Linked DNA regions of Homo sapiens: region 2 is linked to region 1. The links come from fine-mapping of genetic effects on gene expression. Tissue or cell type: skeletal muscle. Region 1 holds a variant in brackets; the other region holds the start of a gene. All regions are shown on one strand. Distances are from middle to middle.

Region 1 (2,679 bases):
GAAATCCTATGTTCCGCCCTGGCAGGGCTTTGCATTTCACATTCTAGTTTGCATCCCCGTTCCAGAAAATTCCAGGGCTTTTGAATCATGCCTCATACTTCCTGGCCGCTGTCGCCTCCCAAACCCGAAAAACAGAGGCGCTGGGAGCCAGGATGTGAGACACACAGGTCCCGCCCCGGCCCCGCCCTCTGCCGGTTCTAAACCGCAAAGTCTCTCTGCTTCGCGCCCCGCCGCCACCCGGCCCAGGCCCCGCCCACCACCTCGCGGGGCCCGCCGAGGCCTGGCTTCTGTCCTGCGCGCGCAGATTCTCGCAAATCTGGAAGCGGATCGCGTGGAGTGACGGTCACACCGCGGCGGTGAGTTTCGCTGTTTTGTATTAAGTCTGCATTTCCCAGGTCCTCAGCGTTTCTGTCCCTCGGACCTAGGGTCCCCACAGATCTGGAACTTCTCTCCCGTCTTCACCCAGAGCAAATAGAGACATCCCCGTGAGAGTCTGGAAGTCGCTTCCTTTTGGGTCTAAAGTCGCCCTGAGGTTGGTCCCATCCCCTGTCTTTCTGCTCTAGGGCAATGTATACACTTCCTATCGCGTAGTTGTTGTTGTTTTTTTTTTTTTTTTCTCAAAATCATTTTCAGACTCCTCCCGCCCCGCGCTTTTTAACGTCCTCACCCGCGAAGTGGATTCCCGCCGTGGGCACCTCCCAGCCTTGCCCTTGTCGGCCTCTGAAGCGCAGCGCCGCGGCCCCTGTCCCGGGGAGGCCGTGTCCTCTGCCTAGTCCTGGGATCCTGCAGACCCCACCCTTGTCCTCAGGCGCCGTCGCCCCCCACCTCCCTCCTCGTGCCGGGCCCTGCTGCTCCCCAGGTCTCTCCTCCGCAGTCACCGCTTCTCCTGAGCCCGCGTTGGGGAGGTGCCCGGGGCCTGTCCTGTGACACGGGGTGTTCTTGCCTGCCCAGTTCCAGCCCCTGGAAAATAAGCTCCTCCGGGATGCAGGCGTCTTACTCCAAACCCTCCTGTGATTGTGTGGGCCAAAGGGATCAGGAGACGGACAGAGAGCAGTGGAAAACCTGAGACAGAGAAAAGAAGAATGAGAAAGAGCCATAAGAGATGGCAAAGTAGAGGATGGGTGAGGGATTTGCCAAGAGACAGCAAAAGTGAAAAGAAAACGATAAGAAAGCAGGAGGAGAAAAGCAAGTGCAGAAATGTAGAGAAAAGCTGGATGTACAGAGACATGAAGGACAGCAAGGTAGGGAGAGGGGCAGCAAAGAGGGAGGCTCATCAGGGTGAGGGAGAGGAGGAGGGATTTGGAGCCAGGGCAGACAGAGCAGAGTGGTGCTGGTGGCAAGGAGAACAGAGGGAGAAGCACAGCAGGGAGGACACCTGGGGATCTGGAGTGCTAGAGAGTGGGGATGAGGGTATAACAGGGAAGAGAGAATGTAACAGGGAGAGCAGAGGAGGCGCTGAGATGGGAGAAGAGGCGGAAATATTTGTGTTAGGGGAAACTGAAGAATGGAGAGACCAATATGAGAGAAACAGAATTGTTT[A/G]TTTTAGGTACGCACTGGCTCAGTGGATTCATATCCAAAAAGCTGAGCACTGAACAAAGACAGAGCAGGGTTTTTATAAGTGGCCTTACAAAAGCAAAACAAAAGCAGTTAATTATACAGTGACAGGTTGTGTAATCTATAGCATAACATATCTTGTGACCTTGGGTTGCCGGTGGCCTTGTAGCTGCATCAAAGGAAAAACAAGAACTGACTAAATACAGACATTTGTAAAACATAATAATGCTTAAGAAGCCTGGAAAAAGAGTAACAGTAAAATAATCTCTCTCTTTTTTTTTTTTTTTTTTTTTTCCTTCAACCTTGCTCTGGAAGGTGGGGGTGTCTGGAGCCCATTCATTTAGACTTGGCTATTCGGACAGCGTTATCCTGTAACCGTTCTTGATGTGAGCTTGACAGGCAGAGGAAAACTTGTTCTTTTCTTTTTATTTTTAAACCTTGCCTTGCCACATTGTGGGCCTTAGCTTTTACTTTTCTTGGAGTGAATAAATGCAGTACTTATTATTTTTAAATTTCTGTCCATATAGAGATAGAGGATGATCAAAAGATTGGGGAGAAGAGCAGCAAGATGTTAGATAAGTTACAAGGATGGAGCAGAAGAGGTGGAAGAGAAGGAATAGAGTGAAGAAGGGGATAAACAGCAGGAGAGGAGAGAGGTACAAAATGAGGAGCAGAACCCCGGGGGAAAATAAAACAAGAGCTAGAGAGAGAAGGGGAGAATGAGAGATACGTACAGAATCAGGGAAGGAAGCAAAGTAATGAAGAAAGAGAGGCTGGGTACAGTGGTTCATGCCTGTAATCCCAGAACTTTAGAAGACTGAGGCAGGGGGATTGCTTGAGTCCAGGAGTTCTAGACCAGCCTGCACAACATAGTGAGATCCTTATCTCTGCCAAAAAAAAAAAAAAATTAATCGGGTATGATGGTGCGCACCTGTAATCCCAGCTACTCTGGAGGCCAAGGGAGGAGGATCACTTGAGCTCGGGAGGTCCAGGCTGCAGTGAGCCAAGATCATGCCACTGCACTGCAGCCTGGTCAACAGAGTGAGACCCTGTTACCAAAGAAAAGAAGGGGCAGGGGGACTTTGGGATCAGATGAGTAGGTGAGTTTATTGGCTATGATTAGTT
Region 2 (2,679 bases), 51 kb after region 1:
AGACCAGCCTAGCCAATATAGTGAAACCTCGTTTGTATCGAAAATACAAAAATTAGCCGGGCATGGTTGTGCGCGTCTGTAATGTCAACTACTCCGGAGGCTGAGACAGGAAAATCGGTTCAACCCAGGAGGCAGAGGCTGCAGTGAGCCCAGATCTCGCCACCGCATTCCAGCCTGGCCAAAAAAGAAAACTCTGCCTCAAAAAAAAAAAAAAAAAAAAATAGAAAAAACTAAATATATAAAAGAAAATAAGCCGGGCGCGGTGGCTCACACCTGTAATCCCAGCACTTTGGGAGGCCGAGGCGGGCGGATTACTTGAGGTCGGAAATTTGAGACCAACCTGACCAACATGGAGAAATCCCATCTCTACTAAAAATACAAAATTAGCAGGGCATGGTGGCACATCCCTGTGATCCCAGCTACTTGGGAGATAGAGGCATGAGAATCGATTGAACCTGGGAGACAGAGATCGCGCCATTGCACTCCAGCCTGGTCAACTAGAGCAAAACTCCATCTCAAGAAACAAAAAAAGAAACTGATAGATCTCTTACACAAATACGCTGGGACAACTAACTGGATATCCACGTGGAAAAGAATAATGTTGGATCCCTATGTAACATCATCAAAAATTTTATTATAAAAAAGAAAAGAGAGAGAGAGACGAGGAAGGGAGCCCTGCGGGAGGGGGTGTTACTTTGTCGCCCAGGCTGGCCTGAACTCCCAGGCTCGGCGATCCTCCCGCCGCTGCTTCCTGAATAGCTGGGACCTCAGGCTCCCACTCCCGCGCCCATATCCCAGCTGTGTTTAAGCCGCAGGTGGTGACCTCACCCATCCTTGGCCTGAGCACTCCATCCTGCATCTCAGGCAGTGGCCTGAGTCTCTAAAGCTGAGCACAGCGTGGACTCTCTCCCAAGTGAATGGAGAATAGAAAGGGAGAGGATTTCTATTCGGTTCTGTGGGCTATCAGCATGAAATTGTACCTTCCGCCCAGGCAGGGCTTTGCATTTCACATTCTAGTTTGCATCCCCGTTCCAGATAATTCCAGGGCTTTTGAATCATGCCTCAGCCTTCCTGGCCGGTCTCGCCTCCAAAACCCGAAAAATGCCTCTGCGCTGGGAACGATGCTGAGAGACTCACAGGTCCCGCCCTGGCCCCGCCCACTGCTGGTTCTAAAGGGGAAAGTCTCTCGGCTTCCCACCCCGCCCCTACCTCATCCAGGCCCCGCCCACCTCGCGGGCCCCGCCCAGACCTGGCTTCTGTACTGCGCGCGCACATGCGCGCAAACCCGGAAGCGGATTATGTGGAGTGAAAGTTACACCGTGGCGGTGAGTTTCGCTCTTCTATTAAGTCTGCGCTTACCAGGTCCCCGGCGCTGCTGTACCTGAGACGTGGGGTCCCCACAGACCTGGAAATTCTCTCCCTTCTTCCTTCACCCAGGACAAATTGAGACGTCCCCATGAGAGTCCGGATATCGCTTCCTTTTGGGTTTAAAGTCGCCCTGAGGCTGGGCTGTCCCCGGTCTTTCTGCTGTAGGGCGATGTATACACTTCCTGTCGCGTAGTTTTCCTGCTCAAAACTGTTTTCTGACTCCTCCCGCCCCTCGCTTTTTAAAGTCCTCACCCGAGAGCTGGATTCCCGCCCTGGGCGCCTCCCACCCTCGCCTTCGTAGGCCACTGGAGCGCAGCGCCAGGGCCCCAGTCCCAGGGAGGCCGCGTACTTTGCCTGGTCCTGGAATCCTGCAGACCCCAACCTTGTCTTAAGGCGCCGTCTCCCCCCCACCTCCCTCCTCGTGGCGGGCCCTGCTGCTCCACAGGTCTCTCCTCCACAGTCACCTCTTCCCCTGAACCCGCGTTGGGGAGGTACCCGGGGCCTGTCCTGTGACACGGGGTGTTCTTGCCTGCCCAGCTCCAGCCCCCGGAAAACGAGCTCCTCCGGGATGCAGGCGTCTTATCCAAACCCTCCTGTGATTGTGTCGGCCAAAGGCATTGGGAGACAGAGCAGTAGAAAAGCTGAGACAGAGAAAAGAATGAGAAAGACCCATAACAGAGGGCAAAGTAGAGGGTGGGTGATGGATTTGTCAAGAGACAGCAAAAGTGAAAAGAAAAAAAAAGAAAGCAGGAGGAGAAAAGTAACTGGAGAAACGTAGAGAAACCTAGATGTACAGAGAGATGAAGGACAGCAAGGTAGGGAGAGGGGCAGCAAAGAGGGAATCTCATCAGAGTGAGGGAGAGGAGGAGGGATTTGGAGCCAGGGCAGACAGAGCAGAGTGGTGCTGGTGGCAAGGAGAACAGAGGGAGAACCACAGCAGGGAGGACACCTGGGGATCTGTGGTTCCACATATTGGGGACAGGGGGTATAACAGGGAAGACGGAATTTAACAGGGAGAGCAGAGGATGCACAGAGATGGGAGAAGAGGCGGAAATATATCAAGATTGAGGACGATAGAACGATTGGGGAGAAGGAACAGCAAGAAGTTAGGTAAGTTGCGAGGATGGAGCAGAAGAGGTGGAAGAGAAGGAATAGAGGGAAGAAGGGGATAAACAGCAGGAGAGGAGAGGGGTACAAAATGAGGAGCAGAATGCCAGGTAAAAAGAAAAGAAAACAAGAGCTAGAGAGAGAAGGGGAGAATGAGAGATATGTACACAATTAGGGAGGGAAGCACAGTAATGAAGAAAGATG

The links. PIP is the estimated chance that this variant, and not a neighbour inherited with it, causes the effect.
Region 2: it holds the start of ZNF83, and the variant in region 1 is fine-mapped to the expression of ZNF83 in skeletal muscle (GTEx, PIP above 0.99). The same link has a PIP of 0.9 or more in sigmoid colon and tibial artery.

The regions. Positions count from the first base shown.
Region 1 is chr19:52,688,120-52,690,798 of GRCh38, reverse strand. It overlaps LOC122539214 (Zinc finger protein LOC122539214), which reads left to right and starts at 303. Exons shown (of 4, transcript NM_001396016.1): 1 at 303-356. It also overlaps a transcript of ZNF83 not described here. RefSeq lists a silencer at 131-340 and an enhancer at 634-1,169. The variant A/G (reference allele first, on the strand shown) is at 1,540.
Region 2 is chr19:52,636,958-52,639,636 of GRCh38, reverse strand. It overlaps ZNF83 (zinc finger protein 83), which reads left to right and starts at 1,282. Exons shown (of 3, transcript NM_018300.4): 1 at 1,282-1,325. It also overlaps the pseudogene LOC124904757. RefSeq lists a silencer at 1,035-1,234 and enhancers at 1,445-1,564, 1,318-1,835, 1,836-2,354.